Homo sapiens: one gene and its partners. The protein of the gene in region 2 purifies or fractionates together with the protein of the main gene of each other region. This does not show direct contact. Each region holds a gene or a part of one and is shown on either strand. Other genes may lie near its edges.

Region 1 (4,614 bases), on a different chromosome or scaffold from region 2:
TCTGGTGAAGCTTCTCGAGGGAGGGAGGACCTCACCTAAGTCTTGAAAGACATTGGCCAGGGGAAGAGGACAAGGGAGGTGAAGAGAATTACTGTTCCAGCAAGGAGGGAGTGCACAAAGGCACTGAGGGAATGCTGAGAGAACCACCCACAGTTTAGCCTGGAGACTGGTGTGAAGTTGAGATGCTGGAGAGTAAGGCAGAGCCTAGATCAGACTAAGGAATTTGAGCTGTTTAATAGGAACTCATTGTGGAATTGTAAGTCTGGAAATACCATGATCATATTTGCTTCTTTTTTTTTTGACAGAGTCCCGCTCTGTCGCCCAGGCTGGAGTGCAGTGGTGCGACGTCAGCTCACTGCAACCTCTGCCTCCTGGGTTCAAGTGATTCACTTACCTCAGCCTCCTGCGTAGTTGAAATTACAGGCACACACCACCATGCCCGGTTGATTTTTTTGTACTTTTAGTAGAGACAGGGTTTCGACATGTTGGCCAGGCTGGTCTCGAACTCCTGACCTCAGGTGATCCGCCTGCCTCGGCCTCTCAAAGTGCTGGGATTACAGGCATGAGCCACTGCTCTGGGCTGATCATATTTACTTGTTAGCAAGATCGTTCTGACTGCTAGCAGACTGGATGAGGAAAGTGTAGGCACGCAGCACAGGGCAGTAGTCGGTTGGAGTAAACCTGAAGAGACATGATGAGCTTCTGTTAGGCAGTGGCAGGAGGGATGGAGGGGAGATACAGATTTGAAATGAAATGGTAAAGGGGTATACGTTATGTACAAGTTTGGTTTTGAAACTTTAATTCTGTTTGAGGTACCTGCGAGACACTGAAATGAAGCTAGTTGAATGTATAAATTTGGAGTTCGGGAGAGAGGGTCTGAGTAAATGTGATTTTGGAAATCATGAACACATGGGTGATATTTGAGGTCTTAGACATTGATGAGATCATCTAGGGAAGATACAGAGCGTTTGGAAATATCAAAGGCCAAGGACAGAATCTTGACAGACAACATTTAAAAGGATGGGTGGAGAAAGAGGAACTTGCAAAAAAGACTGGTGAGGAACAACCACAGAAGTGGGGAGGAAAGCAGTGGAGGGAGTTGAGGGTGAGCAGGGCCACCTGACAGGTAAGGGCCAGCCTGAGAGGGCCATGACATTGAGCAGCTAGATTAACAGATACCTTAAAGGGAGTTGTGTCAGCGGACTACACAAGACAGATACCTGGAGTTCAGGAGAGAAGGTAGGAGGAAATGCAAACTACCAAGTGTACACTGCTCTTTTTAGAAGCCCAACTTGAAGAAGTGGGGAGAGGTAGCTAAAATGAAGCAAGATTGTGTGACTTCTCACTTAAACCCTTGAACGGCTTTCCGTTGCTCACAGTGTAAATTCAGCCCCTCCTCCGGCTCACAAGACCTCATGGCCTGTGTCTCTTGCTTGATTTCCCCTATCACTTTCCTCCCTCTTTTCCACTGTGTTGTATTCTTGGAAGTGTGTGTGTCCATTCTCCCCTTAGGGCGTTTGTAAATGTTGTTCTCTTTGCCTTGGCACAACTTTCCCCCCTTCTCTTTCCTTTCTTGCTTAAACTGCCTCCTACTCATCCCTGAAGTCTCACTTCCTTGGCAGGCCTTCTTGACCTGCCCATGCTGGGTATGAGCCCCTGTTGCGTACTTCTTTAGCATCCCAAGACTTCCCCTTTCATAGCGGGAATTGGATGTCATACAGCAGCAAATGATTTCGGGAACACAATTTGCATTAAGCAAACCACTATCTTGAAAGTAACACAGCTTGAGTAGGAAAAAAGTGTTTAAGGTGGCTTTCTGCTTTGTTTAGCACAGCAGTGGGTGATGTTTCTGATAATGTTTTTGAAGAGTTGTGCTTTTTTTGGTAATGCTCATGGAGCTGGGAAAAGAAAGGCTTTGCTCTTGAGCAAAAACTGAGTACAACTAAAAGCTGGACTTGCTTAGTGGTAGGAGAACTTGATACCTTGTTGAAATTCTAGCGGGAAAAATGAATTTAGTATTTTGAGTCTGGAACTCTGGTCCCTTATTCCTTTTTGCTCCTTTTGAAAAGTGTCTTTTATTTCATGAGTTTGATAATAGGAGGTTTCTTAGAAATGAATTATTGGGTTGGAGCAGAACAGACTCTGTTAATCTGAGTTTATATTTTTTATTACTTCTTCAGAGTTTCATGAAGGCACTGCCAGTGCTTTGCACAGTATCAGGTGCTTAGTAAGCACTTGAAAATATGTGCTGAATGAATGACTTTTTACGAGGAAAGGGCAACTTGATATATTTATGTGATTGCAGGGATGAACCTAAAGAGAGAGGTGGAGGTTGAAATAGAAGGGATGATTGTTGGAGCCAGAAATCTTAGAAAGCAAGAGTCAATGGGACCAAGAGCACACAGGTGGAAGAATTGATCGTGAAAGAGTGCTGGCCAGGCGGTGGCTCATCCCTGTAATCCCAGCGCTTTGGGAGGCTGAGGTGGGAGGATCACTTGAGGTCAGGAGGTTAGGGCTGCAGTGAGCCATAATTGTGCCACTGCACTACAGACTAGGTGACAGAGTGAGATCCTGTCTCTAAAACAAGAACAGCAAAACAAAGGGTGCAGTTGGAAAAGTTTAATTTGGTCTGATTGTGTGAGGTTAATTCTGACTTTTTGAGTAATGTTCATGATCCCTTTTTGGCTTTTCCTTTTGTCACTGCTGATTGCTGTCTTCATCAGGCTGAGCTTTGAGAAAGGCAGAGAGAAGGAATGGAGTCTGTGTGCCTACTGAGGAAAAGACTAAAACTGGGGAATCGCAAAAGCTATGTTATGGGTTGTTTCTAAGAAGTGATGGCTCAGAAGGAATTTGGCTTATTTATTTTTAAATTCCTTTCTTTTTTAAAGAGTTCTCACTCTGTTGCCCAGTCTGGAGTACAAGTGCAGTGGTGCAATCATAGCTCACTGCAACCTTAAACTCCTGGGCTCAGGTGAGCCTCTCACCTCAGCCTCTTGGAAATTGGTTGATTAATTAGGGTTTATAAACAATGGAACTCCTGACTGACTTCATTTTTCTTTTTTTGAAACCAAGTCTTGCTCTGTCCCCCAGGCTGGAGTGCAGTAGTGTGATCTCAGCTCACTGCAACCTCTGCTCCCCCCAGGTTCAAGCAGTTCTACTGCCTCAGCCTCCCGAGTAGCTGGGATTACAGGTGCCCACCAGCACGCCCAGCTAATTTTTGTATTTTTAGTAGAAACGGGGTTTCACCATGTTTGTCAGGCTGGTCTTGAACTCCTGACCTCAGGTGATCCACCTGCCTCGGCCTCCCAAAGTGCTGCTGGGATTACAGGTGTGAGCCACCACGCCCAGCCACATTTTTCTTTTTCTTTCTTTTTTTCCTTTTTCTTTCTTTTTTTTTCTTTTTCTTTCTTTTCTTTTTGAGACTGGGTCTCACTTTGTCACCCAGTCTGGAGTGCAGTGGCGTGATCTCAGCTCACTGCAGTCTCGACCTCTTGGGCTTTAGACATCCTCCTGCCTCAGTCCCCCACGTAGCTGGGCCTGGCTAATTTTTTTGTATTTTTTGTAGAGACAGGGTTTAACTATTTTGCCCAGGCTGGTCTTCAACTCCTGAGTTCAAGCAATCTGTCCACCTCAGCCTTCCAAAGGCTTAGGATTACAAGCATGAGCCACTGTGCCTGGCCATTTTTCTTTTTTCTTTTTCTTTTTTTGAGACAGTCTTGCTCTGTTGCCCAGGCTGGAGTGCAGTGGCGTCATCTCGGCTCGCTGCAAGCTCTGCCTCCCAGGTTCACGCCATTCTCCTGCCTCAGCCTTCTGAGTAGCTGGGACTACAGGCGCCCGCCAACACTACAGGCGCCCGCCACCACGCCAGGCTAATTTTTTGTATTTTTAGTAGAGACGGGGTTTGACCGTGTTAGCCAGGATGGTCTTGATCTCCTGACTTTGTGATCCACCTGCCTCGGCCTCCCAAAGTGCTGGGATTATAGGCATGAGCCACTGCGCCTGGCCGCCATTTTTCTTTATTAGAAATTTGTAGTTCAAATATTGCTAGAGAACAATTTTTACCATTTGTGAGTCAGCTAATTTTTAGAAGTCAGATATCAAGTGCACACTGTTCTTCTCATACTTACAGCGGGGCAGCCAGTTAGGCAGGTGAATCAAAGCTGTCTTATTCTAAAACACTTCCCTTGCCTACTAGTTACACATTCTCCTGCCTGCTGTCTAATCTCAGTGCTTTTACATGGTTGCACAAACTCTGAATTCCCTTGAAGATTGGCTACTCTCTCACACCTTGGAGTCTTCATGTGTTGGATATACTCCATGCCTACCATATCTATTTGGGAAACATCTTCAAGACTAGACCGTAGTCTCCTTGGGCAAAGTTAAATGCTCCCCCTTCTCTCATTTCTTAGTTCTCTATATTCTTTTATTAGAATATGAACCACATTGTTTTGTAACTGTCTACTTGTCTGTTCTGTGTAGCTCCTTGAGGGTGGTCTTTTTTTTTCTTTGTTTTCCCACCACCTACCTACGGGACCTGAAACATGTTAGATGCTCAGTAAATATTCAGTAAACACAGGAAAACTGTTCCCTTTTAAAATGTCAGCACCTTAGTTT
Region 2 (4,614 bases):
TATTCAAAGTGTTCTGTGGGCCAGGAGTGTCAGTATTACTCGAAAGCTGCCAGAAATACAGAATGTTGGCCAGGTGCGGTGGCTCACGCTTGTAATCCCAGCACTTTGGGAGGCCCAGGCGGGCAGATCACAAGAGGTCAGGAGTTCAAGACCAGCCTGGTCAACATGGCGAAATCCCGTCTCTACTAAAAATACAAAAATTAGCCGGGGGTGGTGGTGGGCCCCTGTAGTCCCAGCTACTGGGGAGGCTGAGGTAGAGGAATTGCTCGAATCCAGGAGATGGAGGCTACAGTGAGCCGAGATTGCGCCACTGCACTCCAGCCTGGGTGACAGAGTGAGGCTCCATCTCAAAAAGAAAAAAATGCAGAATGTTAAACTCCCCCCAAATCTGCAGAATCAGAATTTGCATTTTAACGAGACTCCCAGGTGATTCATATGCACATTGAAGTTCTAACAGCACTACCTTAAAGCACTATGATTCTTTTCCTCCATAGCTCTTGCCACAACCTGCAATTCTAATTACACATTTATTTATATTTTTTAAATGGCTGCCTTAATGACTAAAGCATAAAATCCATAGGATGTCTTTTAGTGACTAACGTAGTTCCTACCACAGACCAGGTGCTCATTCAAGGTGTGCTGCATGAATGATTCTCTAGGACTTCCCGAACTGCTAGCAGCCTCTGCAATGATGGCTGTACCAGGTTTGCTATTCTAGCCTCTCTCACTGTCCCTGTATATGTCCCTGGGCAGCTTGATGAATTTGATGATTGTGGTAAGACATTTCAATGCAGATATTTTTCTTAGTGCATTTGCACATCATGCTAATCAATGGTCACGCTTGGCAGTAAGTTGTAAGTTGTTTATTAAATTTTAAAATGTTGTGTGTTGTCTCACAAGGGCAACATAAAGGGGAATTTTGTGATATCAAGTTTTCCTGCAAACTGCATGCATAACTGAAAGACTACAAAAACTTAGCTTTGTTAGGTTAAAAGCTTTCAACTAAGGCAACAAAGTCGTAGACTGTTACAGTAGGAAGGGCCTTCCAGGACAAGTTTGCCTCCCTTCCCCTGAGAAGGTAGGGCCCAAATGTTTAAGCTGACTTCCCCCATCTCCAGATTGGTGCTGTGCCAGGGCTTTGCCTTCAGGAGACCTCCTTGACTCACTACCAACCTCTTGCACTAGAGAAGAGATCCATTCATAAGAAAACAAGCTTTCAGCGGAAGGCAAATGACAGACCTCCCAGGGAAATGTTACAATAATAGGGGAACTCCAGATGGTCCTAGTGTTCATACAGAACACTAAGAAAATAAGCTGTGGGCGGCTGCTAATTTCTTGCTTTGGTAGAGGTTAGGAAGTTGGTTTTTTCGCATACACACGCTCACACCTCTCTAGGTCTTTACTAATATTTTAATTCAATGCAATACAGGAGATTCCAACCTGGGCAGGTCAAAAGATGAATAAAATACTTCATTCCTTATTGGCAGAATATTGTATGGGTGTCTCCATGGCTGGAGAGAAAGGGGAGGGACAATCAGGGTGTGAAACTTAGTGTCTGAAGAATTTATTAGGGGAAAAGAACTGTGCCTCTCTGCTTCTGTTAACTCCTTGTTGAGAGTCCTTGAACTAGAACCTCCCTTTAGTCACCTTCAATCCCCAGCCCAGGATTCCCTCCTTCAAAAGACAATCTGTTTCTATCAACCTCTTATTTGTGTAAATATTTATGTATATATTTATTACAGAATAAATAATATACTATGTAAATGTTTAAATATATAATATGCATTTGTATGTATACTACATGTGTATACATATTTGTATATTTAAATATAAACTTGTAATAAATCCATAAGGATGGGGACCCAATTTAATTATGTATGGTGTCCTCACAATGCTTGGCATATAAACACACAATTAATTCAGAATTTCCAACCACAGGAGACATAGAGATGTACCTTCCCAGGTATGTTTACAACATACGTTCACAGATGAATCAAACATGGAAAAAAAAAAAACACATCTACTTTTATGATATACTTGATTATTCTCATGTTGACCAGAAGGAAAAAAAAAGAAAAAAACACCCAAACATATGGAGGGGGGAAAAGCACCAGATTGGGAGTTGAGTCCTGGCTCTAGCCGAGTGTGATAGCTCACACCTGTAATCCCAGCACTTTGGGAGGCTGAGGCGGGTGGACCACAAGGTCAGGAGTTCGAGACCAACCTGGCCAATATGGTGAAACCCTGTGTCTACTAAAAATACAAAACTTAGCTGGGTGTGGTGGTGGGTGCCTGTAGTCCCAGCTACTCTGGAGACTGAGGCAGGAGAATCACCTGAACTGGGAGGCGGAGGTTGCAGTGAGCCAAGATAGTGCCACTGCACTCCAGCCTGGCAACAGAGCAAGACTCCTTTTTTTAATTAGCTGAGTGTAGTGGTGTGCACCTGTACTCCCAGCTACTCAGGAAGCTGAGGCAAGAGGATCGCTTGAACTCAGGAGGATGAAGCTGCAGTGACCCATGATCATACCACTGCACTCCAGCATGGGTGACAGAGTAAAACTTTGTCTAAAAAAAAAAAAAAAGTCCCAGCTCTGGTCCCTGATCTTCTATAAATTAACTATGTGGCCCTAGGCAAGTCATTTTATCTCACTCAACCCCGTGTCTCTTGCCTGTGGAACGGGGACAGTAATCCTCATCTTGCATTTCTAATAGATTGTCAAACAAATGGATAGAAAGCCCATTGGAAACTACATCAGTGAATTAATTTTTAAAATTCAGGTGGAGGATGAATTGTAAATTGCACAGTACTTTAAGGACAACAAAATGAAAAAGAAAAAAAAAAGTTGTTTCAACTGAATGTCACACCTCATGCTGCTTTTTTCTTTCTTTTCTTCCAGGACTCCATTCCCAACTCACCTGACAACGTCCCCCTCAAAGGAGGTAAGATCTTGGAATTAGGTGTAAATGTGTAGTAAGTCATCTAGATAAATGCCATAAAGTGTGAAACCTGATTATCAACCAGAAACAACTCTATGACATGACCCAACAGTAAAGTGGGTAGGGGTGGAGGCAAGGGCTGTTCAGGACTGAGCTGATGCACCTGAATTCATCTTAGCAGCTCCTGAACTCATCCCCACAAGTCTCCCACCAGCTCTTGACACTCCCACTAATGAAAATTCTACCTCTGGCATAGGCAGGACTGCAAGGCAGTGTTGTGTTAAATGCTTGAAACCTGAAATCAGATAAATGGGGGAATGAATCTTGGCTTGACTTCCCACTGGGGAGCCTCAACTCCTCATCTGTTAAATGGGAATAATAATAATACTCACCTCATCAAGGTATTGGAGAAGCCATTCAGATCTCATCTGTAAATTGCTTGGCATGGCAACCAGCACATAGTAATCATTAAATAACTAGTAATAGCTAAAATGCATAATGAAGTCAAGGACTTGTGAAAACAGACTTCCTCCTCACTCCTATATTTCCAATCATTGAAGTCACTAATTAACACGTCGTCTCTACTAGCCTCAGAGAGATGATATGCCGAGTTCAGTTAACATCGATGATGAGAAATTTTCAGATGACCTGATTAATGTTTTTATTGCTCAGAGAAGGAAAAGGAAGACCCAGAGAGGGAAAGTGAAGTATCTCGTCCAAGGTCATACAAAGCCAAGCCTAGAACCCAGAAAGATGTCCTCATCTCTGATACAGTGTCTTTTCTGCCCAAGAACACCAACTCCCATCTCAGTCCTGTAACCTTTAGAACCTAGATGGCAAACACAGCTGGATAGCCAGAAAGCTCAGAGCAAAAAGTAAGGAAGTGAGTTAATGTAGGCACCAGGGTAGTGGCACAAGAGTGTCCTTGAGACCAGAGGACACAGATGACTGGACACAGCTCCTCACACTCACAGCATCACACTTGGAGTGTCCTTCAAGTTTCCCTTGCCCATGCCTTTCCTGTGGTTTATCACCCAGAGACTTCAAAAATAGGGGCAAAAGTCCCCAAAAGACAGGGATTCTGGATCTTTCAAGGCAGACTAATAATCATAGCCTTGTCAACAATATCTCATTTTGGCTGGAATTACTTAGCATGTGACCTCAGTTCCTACCATGTCTATGTAAACAGTCACATTAATATTAAAAGGAGCATAGTAGAATGCAGGGGTAAGCAAACTTTTTCTACGAAGGGCCAGATAGTAAACGTTTAGGCTTTGGGGGTCACTATGTCTCTGTTGCAATTAGTCAGCTCTGCTGTTGTAGTGCTGAGCCAGGCTGACTACACGCAAATAAGTAACCACGGTTGCATTTCCATAAAACGTTATTTATCAAATGAGGTGGTGGGCTGGATTTGGCTTATGAATTGGAGGAGTCACTGCAGGCTTTGGAGACAGATGTTTCAGTTAAACATGTAATGCACGTTCACACGGAGCTTTGGAAAAACCAAAAGGCTCTGAGTGAATATAACTTGCCCCTCCCCACTCCCACTGTTCCACCACCACCTCCACCCAGACTTTCCAAGGAAGATGGAAACTTTTCATTTTTTGACAGGGAGAAGGGATTTTTAACATGAACACGGTCTCAGTGACGAGGATAGTTTTGATTAGGTAATAAGAC
Region 3 (5,401 bases), on a different chromosome or scaffold from region 2:
TGGGACGTGGCGGGCGGGGCGGGGCGGGGCGGGGCGGGGCGGGGCGAGGAGACGAGGAAAAACGCCTCGGGAGCTGCCGCGCCGGCGCCGCCGCCACCGCCAGAGGGCAGCGCGTGCCGGCGCGGGAGGCCCGGGCCCCGCCCCCGCCCGGCCAGGCCCCGCCCCCTCCCCGTCCCCGCCCCTGTCCGCCTCGGGCCCCGCCCCGTCTGCCGCTCCGCCCCTGGCCCCGCCCCCCGTCCCGGCCCCGCCCGCCAGGGGCCGCGACGCTGCCCGTGCCCCTCCCACTGCCCGCTCATTCGGGGGCCGGCACCTGCCGGCCTGTCCGCTCCCTGCTTATACTTTGCACGCTCGCAGCCACGTTTCCGCACACCTGTCCCCTTTCCACGCACCTGTGTCCGGCAGCCCGCACATCTGTGGGAGCGCTGCCTCCTCGCCAGCTGTCCGGGAAGTTCAGCGCCGCTCTCCCACGGGCGTGAGACCGCCCCACCCACCTGTCCGTGACTGCAGCTCCGGCCGGGAGGGCGGCAGGTGGGCCCCGGCGCTGCTGGCTCCTTGTGGGACAGGGCCGCGGCGGCGGCGCAGGACGTTCTCCCGCCGGGAGGACCACGCGGCGGTCCCTGGACCCTTCCCCGGGTGCACAGCGGCGGCTGCGCCAGCGGGGGCAGGATGGGCCGTCCGAGCGCACCTCCATCCGCCCTCGCGACGCCCACGCTGGCCCAGACGCGGGATTTGGGGTGGAGGACGCTGGGCTGGGAACCAGCACCTTGGGACGGCCGGGTAGTTCGGGCCTTGAGGAGTCCCACACCCTGACAGCTGGCGCCCCCCACGCCCCGCCTAGCTCTCCTCGGCCTGGGGACACCGGCTGCCAGGCCTCTCCAGTTTCAGCCTTTCCTGGGAGGACTTCCTGGAAGAGGGGGCTTCAGGCCCCAGAAAGAGAGGCTGCTCTGGGGGATGGAGGAGGTGCTGGGATGGTGACTCCGCGGAGTCGAGGGTGTGAGGCGGGATGTGGGCAGGCCGTGAGGTTTGTGTTGCAAGACTGGGAGGCAGGATGAGGGGAGGCCATGGGGCGGCTGGAGGTGCGGCCTGGGAGCCCTGCGTGCTGGGCCCTGGGCAGGGACGGCAGGCGAGGCGTGTGGAGGAAGAGCCGCGAAGAGCTGGGCGCTGTCTTCTCCACGCCTCCGTTTCTTCATCTGCTCCTGGGGCCGCCTGCCCGGTAGCGGAGATTGAATCGCATGTTGACGTCTATTACGATGATTAATGTTCTTGTCATTCCCGTCACTAGCAGGTGAGAGGCTGGGAGGCCTCAGGTGGGAACATACCTTTGGCCAAAGGCACCAGGTAACCCGAACGCCCCGGGGAGGACCCCTGCCTGCATCGCCGCGGCCGTCCCCCCCTACCCCGTCCCCAGCAGCTCCGGCTGGGCGAGGCCCTGCTTCTCCCTTCTGCTCCCGAAGACCCCCCGGGGCGCAGACCTGGAAGCCTCGAAGCTCCCGCGGCCGTCCAGTCCGCCCCCTTCTGAGCAACCAGAGAGCGGTCTGGGCCCGGCCCGGGGCTGCGCAGAGGTCAGACTGCCGCGGGCAGGGCCGGAGCCTGCTCTGGGGGTCGCGGAGGTGTCTCGAGAGTTGAGGACCCGACCCGGGCGCGCGCGGGCGCAGGTATGGGGAGGGCGCGGCGGCTCCTGGCCGGTCCTAGGAGCCTGCGGGGACCAAGGGCGCGCGGGCGGGGCCGGGGGCGCGGCGAGGCTCGGGTTGGGGCGGGGCGGGGGCGGGGGCGGGGCCGGACCCGGGGAAGCCGCCCGCCCGCGGGGACGTCCGCACCGCGAGGGTTAAGGCCGGGAGCCCGGCGGGGCGGGGGCGGTGTGCGCGCGCGGATTGGGGAAAAGTTTGGCGGCGGGGCGGGGCACGGGGGAGGGCTGACGCGCGCGGATTGGCCGGAAGTTGTGCCGGGGGCGGGTCGGGGGTCCGGGCTCGGCGCTCGCTCCGGGAGAGTTGACAAAGCCCCGCAGGGAAGGACGCCTCGCGGCGCGGCGCCCCGGGCCCCTCGCCCCGCCGCCCCGGGATCCCGGCCCCGGCCCCCGGCCCCGCGGACTCGCCCCCGCCGCCTGCCCGGTCCGGGACCCCGCGCCCCGAGCGCCCGAGCCCGGACCCCGACCCGGCCCGAGCCGCCCGCGCCCAGGTAGCGCCGCCCCGCCCCGAGACCGGGCCCGGGGGCGCGGGGCGGCGGGATGCGGCGCCCGGGGCGGCGATGACCGCGGAGCGCACGCCGCGGGCCCGGCCCTGACCCCGCCGCCCGCCCGCTGAGCCCCCCGCCGAGGTGAGCCCCCCGCGCGCGCGGCCGCGACCCCAGGTGGGCACACGGGGGAGGGCGGGGGTCCGGGGCGGGGGCGGGGAGGGGCGGGTTCGGGGCCCCAGCTGGGCACGGGTCATGCGCGCCGCCGCCGCTCCTGCGGGCCCCCGGCCTGCCCCGCCCCCGCCCCCGCGCCCCACGTGGGCCCCCCCCAGCGCAAATTTGTCCGCTAATGGCGCAGGCGATTATCTGCGGGGCGCTGAGTGTTGTGTGTCCTGCGGGCAGGGCCGGAGTTACAAGCGCCAGGAATCCAGACGGTGTTTGGAGAGGGGGGGCGGCGGGGGAGCCCGGTAATTAGTGTAAACCCTTTGTCTGCCTTTGATACCCACAGCTTCTCCCCGCTGCGGCTTCCTCCGCCTGGAGCGCGGGCGGGGAGGGCCTGTGGGGAGGGCGGCCAGACCCCTGATCCCCGCGGCCCGGGACCGGGGAGGGCGGTATCTCCCAGTTCCACGTGTTAGTGACGGCGCCCCCAATGTCCCCAGGTCCGGACAGGCCGAGATGACGCCGAGCCCCCTGTTGCTGCTCCTGCTGCCGCCGCTGCTGCTGGGGGCCTTCCCGCCGGCCGCCGCCGCCCGAGGTGAGTTCTGGCGCCCAGCCCGGCCAGCCTGGCCTCCGCCAGCGCCGCCCCCTTCCCGCCCGGCCCTGAACCCTGCCACAGTGCCCGCCTGGCACGCGCCATGCCCCGCCCCTGCCGCCCCGCTCGCCAGGCCCCCTTCCTTCCAGGGCCCCCTCACCCATGGGCTGTCCACAGCACCCACCGGGGCTCCCCTAGCTGGCTGGAGGGGTTCCCCTCATGCGTGCTTGCTGGCCAGGTGGGCTTTAGTCCTGGCTCCCCAGGACATGCTCCTGGTCTTGCAAACACTTTCATACTCGTACCTGCAGTCCAGGGCAGCTAATCACCTGTGGATTCTTGGGGAGTGGGCGGTTTGTGGCCACAGTGGACCCGATAAGGACTCTGGGAACCTGCAGAGACCCCCACGGAAGGCAGGATGGGCTATGGGAGATATTGGTAATATACTTGGTGTCTGGGACTGAAACTGACCCCCAGACCCCCAGTCCCCCAGCCGACCTAGCCGTGTGCCCTGGGCCTGCCCAGCTCTAGGCAGGCAGTGCCGGGCGGTTGTGTGGACAAGTCCCCAGAGCCGTGACGCACCCCAGGACTGCGTGCCTCTGGGCACACGCTGTGCTGGCCTGGTACGTGCTCATGGCACCGACATCTAAGTGGCAGCCATGCCCTGGGACCCAGCCCCAGCAAGGACATCCGGAGCCGATGGGTGACGTGTGCCCGCAGACTCATGCCCGCCATGTTCCAGGATCCGGGCACAGCGCTGGCTGCCCCCATGGCTAGGCGGGACCTGTGGCCAGGCCGGCCCTTTGGGCGTGTTGACCACTCAGGATTGTCCGCGCTGTGTCCACCAGTCCTGAGGCTTCGCACCCCTCCCCTGCCGCCCAGCAAGCGCGCCGCATCCAACCTGGCCTTATATGGGCACGTTCGGGTGCTGGGTGGCGGGCGGTGACCAGGTGGGCCTTATGCCACAGCACCCCCCCCTACCCCCCGCCTGCCCACATGGGCCTGGCTGAGCGGCTGCTCTGAGGGCCCGGCAGCGTCCTGGGCTGTGTGGGCACTCAGGCCATACTGGGCGAGCCCCTACCATGGCCAGCGGCCTGGACTTGCATTCTCTTTGATCTGTTTGGCCTCCCCAATCCCTACACCTGCCTGTCCTCTGGCCACTCGGCCAGGGAGGCTCTGGAGGCCTCTGTCCTGCCATGTTTCCTGGCTGGGGCTGAAGCTGACTGGTGGATGGCCACGGTCAGCCATGGCAGTGGGCGGCAGAGCCCGCCTCTTCGTGGAGACGCCCCAGCGGCCACCCCCTTCGCCTTCGTCCTCCTCAGCTGCGGCCTTGGGGCTGAGGATATCCAGCCCTGGCTTTGCGTGGCAAAGGCCCTGGCGGCACTGGGGAGCTGGGATCAAGCTGCTTTCCAAGGGCAGGGGCCTCTGTGGTTTGGGTGGAGGTGGGGAGGAGGTTCTTCCGGACTGTGCTGATTTTCCTAGCGTGGACTAGGGCGCGAGGTCCATCCAAGTGTGTTTCTCCTGCTCTGAACAGCCCACTGTGCACCTTCGTTAGGCCAAGGACCAGCATGCAGAGGGCTTGGGTTATTTTTGAAAAGCCATTTCCCGCTGGGTCATAAGTTCTGGAATCGGCACATCGCTACACTCAGATCATATTTTAAAAGTTCCTCTTTTCCCAAACTTTCACAATCTTGGTGGATTTGTCTTAAACTGCTTTTTTTTTTTCCAATTTGAAAAAATATAGGAATTGGCTTTCTCCCTTTCCATTTTATTTCTCACAGTGGGAACTTGAGAGGTTCTGCATGAAATGTCTTTCACAAATAACTCTGAAGGAAGTCGTTTCAGGGCTTTCTGAGAAGTGCCACCTTTGAACTTTTGCAAGCATGGCCTTGGGGGCCAGCTCTGAGTGGCCTGCCTAGGAGGCCACTCCCCTGTCCTCTGCACCCGGCCAGCTGCGGTGGGCAAGCTGAGCCCTGACCCAGGTGGGCAGGGTGCCTGTCCAGGGGTGCCCCATGCCTGGGGGGTAGCGGGGTCAGTGTCGGCTCCCTGTGGGGGCAAGAGTCTGAAGGGTTGTGATTCGGGGAAGCAATAGCCGTGGGTGTACGGTGCTGACCTCGGCCCCCAGCCAGGCCTCAGGGCCTTCCTCCCTCGCCCCAGGCCCTTCCGGGCAGTGGCTGGCCCGTGTGCAGCGGGCTGAGGTGGACGTGTGGGAGCTGGGCCCAGCCCCTGCAAGGTGGGGAATCGGGCCAGCCGCCCCGTTTCCATCTCGGGGCCCCACTCCTGGAAGGGAAAATAAATCACTGTCCCCTTGGGGGGAGGGAGGGAGCCGTGAACAAAGTCGCCTTTGGCTGGGCCTGGAAACGCCGACCGCAGACTCCTTTATCCATTGTGCGGGAATCAATGGGCCTCCGGGCTCCCTTTCAGCCGCAGGCCCCGCGCTGCGGCCCTGTCAGGGGAAATGTTGGTTTTTCCCCAGTCGTGGCC
Region 4 (4,614 bases), on a different chromosome or scaffold from region 2:
ATATCACATGGGTTATGTTGAGAACACCCCACTACATTACATCAAAAGGTACAGGATGCCAGGACATCCCACTACTGGGAATGCCAAACATGACCACTTGTTAAGAGGGTGACTGCTATATCTTTCAATTATAAAGGTTCATGTTCCATTTTGTAATTAGTAAGCAGACACTGGGGTGACATTTGAGGGCCTTTGACTATCCTCTCCTTAACAATCTTCCAGTCAGTTGTTTTAGCATCCATTGATGATCCTTCCATTATAGCATAGAAAGTGGCCATTAAATTATTATTTTCTAATTTTATCCTTTCAATATTTAATAATTGTCATTTGTCATTAAAAGAAGAAAGATTTTGTCTGAGCTCTAAATCAGTCACTCAAACAATTTTATTATTTTTTTAGAATCAAATAATTTACTTCTTGATTCCCTAACTTAGATATATCTGGTTTTTTATTCAAATTCTAGTATATTGATTTCAAAGTATGGGCATCTAGGGTTCTGGTATTTTTCTCAGGTAAGCTACATTATTTTTATTTTTTTCTTATCTCCTTTGACTCAGAAGAGGTTTGTTTATATGGAATGACATATATAGTGTTAAACACTTTAAATATATTAGGAACTAATATGTTTGGCATATAATACATCTAAAAACATTGTTTCTCTTCTTCCTTTCCTCTTTACCACTCCCAACCATATCACGTTTGAAAAAAAAAAGTTTCTTTTTTGAAGACTAATTTGACAGTTCTAAGGCTTATTTTTAAGAAATTAATCTTGGAACATAAGAAGGCATTTTGTCTGTTCTGCATGTCTTGATTATTTGAAAAGATAATGCTCACGTTAAGGTGAACTTGTTAACTCTTTCTATTGTGTGTGTGAAAATGTAATGAGTATATAGACTCATGTGTCACCTAATGGAGGTAAGATATCTACTTAGTATACATGCCTTTGGTCCAGATCAGACGCTTATCCAAAAGATCACTTAAGTCTGGGGAGTCATGGTCTCTCTTTGGTCTGCTGATAAAATTTATCTGGTAACCCATTTAGGAGGTCCCAGGGCTGAAAATGTCTTAGGTTACGTTAAACCTTCCTGGTATCATTCCTGTTTTCTGAAGTAGGAAGCCAAAAGAGCTTCCTGCAGCAATTTAATTTGCTGTCATCAAGTAGAGCATGTTATAATGATGACAGTTATTATTTTTTAGTACTTAGTAGCTACGGGGGATCTAGTTGTAGCTAGTTTATTTGATTTATCTTGACGTAATTTATTCATTTTTACAAATTGCAACACTCTTGATTAATAAATCTGTGCATGTCAATGGTAGCAAAATAATTGCCTTGCAAAAAGTTTCCTCTTTTAAAACTATACTGTTTCCCAAATTTCTGTATACAATAATGCATATATACAATCCATGGAAATTCAAAAAAATAATGCTTATTCATAGATAAATTAGTGTAGCAGAATCAATATTGGTAAATTCTACCTCTATCACATCATTTTCATAACTAGAGAATAAAACTGTTGACACTTAAGATCCACATGTAATGAGATAAATTTATACTACTTTTTTCTTCTTTACACCTAGAGAATGGGACATTTTAGAGACTGAAGAGCATTATAAGAGCCGATGGAGATCTATTAGGATTTTATATCTTACTATGTTTCTCAGCAGTGTAGGTAAGTATTAGAAATACATAATTTTAACAATTCAGATCAGATGTCATATTTTAACTTCATTTACTTCATTTACTTTCATTGCCTCTGAAATTATCTTTATTGTGCTAAAAAATACGTGACATAAATTTACCGTGTTACCATATCTAAGTTCAATAGCCTTAAGTATATCCACATTGTTGTGCAACCAATCCCTAGAACATTTTCATCTTGCAAAAGAGAAACTCTATACCCATTAAACAACTCCCTATTTTCCCATCCCCCAAGCCCTAGCAAACTTTGTTTCTTGGAATTTGACTATTCTAGATAGCTCATATAAATGGAATTATATAGTATTTTTTTTCTTGTGATGAGATTATTTCACTCAATGTCCTCAAGTTGGTTCATGTTGCACTTGTGATAATTTCCTTTTATTTAAAGGCTGTATAGTTCATTATATGTATTCTAGGGTAGGAGAAATTTTTCCTCTATTCTCCTATGTGCTTAAGGCTTGTGAATTAAGCTGACAAAAGAAAGACTAACAGTTAAAAAAGTATACAAATTTATTTGATGTTAATATTTTTTAATGAAAAGAAACAAATAACATTAAGGAATGTACATACAAACGAAACTAGACAACTACTAAGAGTCCCTAACACTTTCATGTACTCACAAAAGTATTTCATCTTTTTTTTTTTTTTTTTTTGAGACGGAGTTTCACTCTTGTTGCCCAGGCTGGAGTGCAATGGCACGATCTCAGCTCACTGCAACCTCCACCTCCCAGATTCAAGCGATTCGCCTGCCCCAGCCTGCCAAGTATCTGGGATTACAGGCATGTGCCACCACCCCTGGCTAATTTTGTATTTTTAGTAGAGACGGGATGTCTCCATGTTGGTCAGGCTGGTCTCGAACTCCCAACCTCAGGTGATCTGCCCACCTCGGCCTCCCAAAGTGCTGCGATTACAGGCGTGAGTCACCGCCCCCAGTTAAAAATATTTCATCTTTTTTCTTTTTTTTTTTTTTTCAAGACGGAGTTTCGCACTGTCGCCCAGGCTGGAGTGCAGTGGCGCGATCTCGGCTCACTGCAAGCTCCGCCTCCCAGGTTCGCGTGATTCTCCTGCCTCAGCCTCCCGAGTAGCTGGGACTACAGACACCCGCCACCACGCTAATTGTTTTATATTTTTAGTAGAGACGGGGTTTCACTGTGTTAGCCGGGATGTCTTGATCTCCTGACCTCGTGATCTGCCAGACTCAGCCTCCCAAAGTGCTGGAATTACAGGCCTGAGCCACCGCACCTGGCCAAAAGTATTTCATCTTTACAGCCATCAGTCAATTATTTGTTCTGCTACTTCTTGAAGATGTGCAAAATTTCTTTTTAAAAAAATTTTATTATTTATTATTATTTATTCATTTTTTGAGGTGGAGTCGCCCAGGCTGGAGTGCAGTGGTGTGATCTCGGCTTACTGCAACCTCTGCCTCCTGGGTTCGAGCAATTCTTGTGCCTTAGCCTCCCGAGTAGCTGGGACTACAGGCGCACGCTATCACGCCCAGCTAATTTTTTTGTATCTTTAGTAGAGATGGGGTTTCACGGCGTTAGCCAGGATGGTCTCGATCTCGTGACCTCATGATCTGCCCGCCTCAGCCTCCCAAAGTGCTGGGATTACAGGCGTGAGCCACCCCGCCTGGCCAGTGCAAAATTTCTTAAGTTTAAATATACAGTCTTAATTATACCTGTGTCTTAATGTCCCAAGACAGATTGTAGGTAACAGAATCTCAATTGTGCCTCAAAGAATTAACAACAAAACAAAATTCAATCTATTCTCTGCATTCAGGCAGAAAGGGGGAGAGCAGAGAACCCTTCCTGCATCTGCTATTTCTCGGTTGCCTTCAGTTTGAGATAATTAATATGGCAAAACAGCAGATTTTTGGAGTAGCATACTCTGATTGCCTTCAGTATATACCACATTTTTTTTTTTTTTTTTTTTGAGACAAAGTCTCGCTCTGTCGTCCAAGCTGGAGTGCAGTGGTGTGATCTTGGCTCACTGAAACCTCCGCCTGCGGGGTTCAAGCAATTCTCTGCCTCAGCCTCCCAGGTAGCTGGGATTACAGTCACCCACCACCATGCCCGGCTAATTTTTGTATTTTTAGTAGAGATGGGGTTTCACCATCTTGGCCAGGCTGGTCTTGAACTCCTGACCTCGTGATCCACCGGCCTCAGCCTCCCAAAGTGCTAGGATTACAGCCTAGCCTGGCCTACCACATTTTGTTTAGCCATTTATCTGTCGATGGACATTTGGGTTGCTTCCACCTCTTGGCTGTTGTGAATAGTGCTGCTGTCAATATGGGTGTGCAAATATCTCTTCAAGATCCTGCTTTTAGTCCTTTTGGGTATATATCCAGAAGTGAAATTGCTGGATCATATTATGATTTTCTTTTTAATTTTTTAATTTTTTGGAAAATTGCCATACTGTTTTCCATAGCAGCCGTACCATTTTATTTACATTCTCAACAACAGTCAGGGTTCCAATTTTTTCACATCCTTGCCAACGTTAACTTTCTTTTGGATAGTAGTCATCCTAGTGGATGAGATGGTATCTTGTTTTGATTTGCATCTTCTTAATGATTAGTGATGTTGAACATGTTTCTTGTGCTTTCTGTCCATTTGTATATCTTCTTTGGAGAAGTGTTTGTTCAAGACCATTGCCCATTTATTAGTTGGATTTTTTGTTGTTGAGTTGTAGGAATTCTTTATATACTCTGAATGTTAGCCCCTTATCCAATATATGATTTGTAAATATTTTCTCCCATTCCAGGACTCTTCTATTCAGTGTGCTAAATGTATCCTGTGATTCACATTCACAGAAGTGTTAAATACTGATGTAGTCCACCTTCTCTGTTTTTTTCTTTTTGAGACAGAGTCTTGCTTTGTTGCCCAAGTTGGAGTGCAATGGCACTATCTCGGCTCGCT

What was found.
Region 1: the proteins of TNFSF8 (region 2) and PTPN2 purify together in Homo sapiens (co-immunoprecipitation; 3 studies listed by BioGRID and IntAct, with this or other methods). This does not show direct contact.
Region 3: the proteins of TNFSF8 (region 2) and FGFRL1 purify together in Homo sapiens (affinity purification with mass spectrometry; 2 studies listed by BioGRID and IntAct, with this or other methods). This does not show direct contact.
Region 4: the proteins of TNFSF8 (region 2) and MFSD8 purify together in Homo sapiens (affinity purification with mass spectrometry; 2 studies listed by BioGRID and IntAct, with this or other methods). This does not show direct contact.

The regions. Positions count from the first base shown.
Region 1 is NC_000018.10:12,877,121-12,881,734, reverse strand, and holds part of PTPN2 (tyrosine-protein phosphatase non-receptor type 2), read left to right. Parts: intron 1-4,614. UniProt on the Homo sapiens protein: Non-receptor type tyrosine-specific phosphatase that dephosphorylates receptor protein tyrosine kinases including INSR, EGFR, CSF1R, PDGFR.
Region 2 is NC_000009.12:114,916,422-114,921,035, reverse strand, and holds part of TNFSF8 (tumor necrosis factor ligand superfamily member 8), read left to right. Parts: intron 1-2,897; coding exon 2,898-2,940; intron 2,941-4,614.
Region 3 is NC_000004.12:1,009,642-1,015,042, forward strand, and holds the start of FGFRL1 (fibroblast growth factor receptor-like 1 precursor), read left to right. Parts: upstream 1-1,984; 5' UTR 1,985-2,313; intron 2,314-2,330; exon of another isoform or gene 2,331-2,346; intron 2,347-2,499; exon of another isoform or gene 2,500-2,636; intron 2,637-2,822; exon of another isoform or gene 2,823-2,828; coding exon of another isoform or gene 2,829-2,844; coding exon 2,845-2,923; intron 2,924-5,401. UniProt on the Homo sapiens protein: Has a negative effect on cell proliferation.
Region 4 is NC_000004.12:127,954,557-127,959,170, reverse strand, and holds part of MFSD8 (major facilitator superfamily domain-containing protein 8), read left to right. Parts: intron 1-1,578; coding exon 1,579-1,670; intron 1,671-4,614. UniProt on the Homo sapiens protein: Outward-rectifying chloride channel involved in endolysosomal chloride homeostasis, membrane fusion and function. Conducts chloride currents up to hundreds of picoamperes.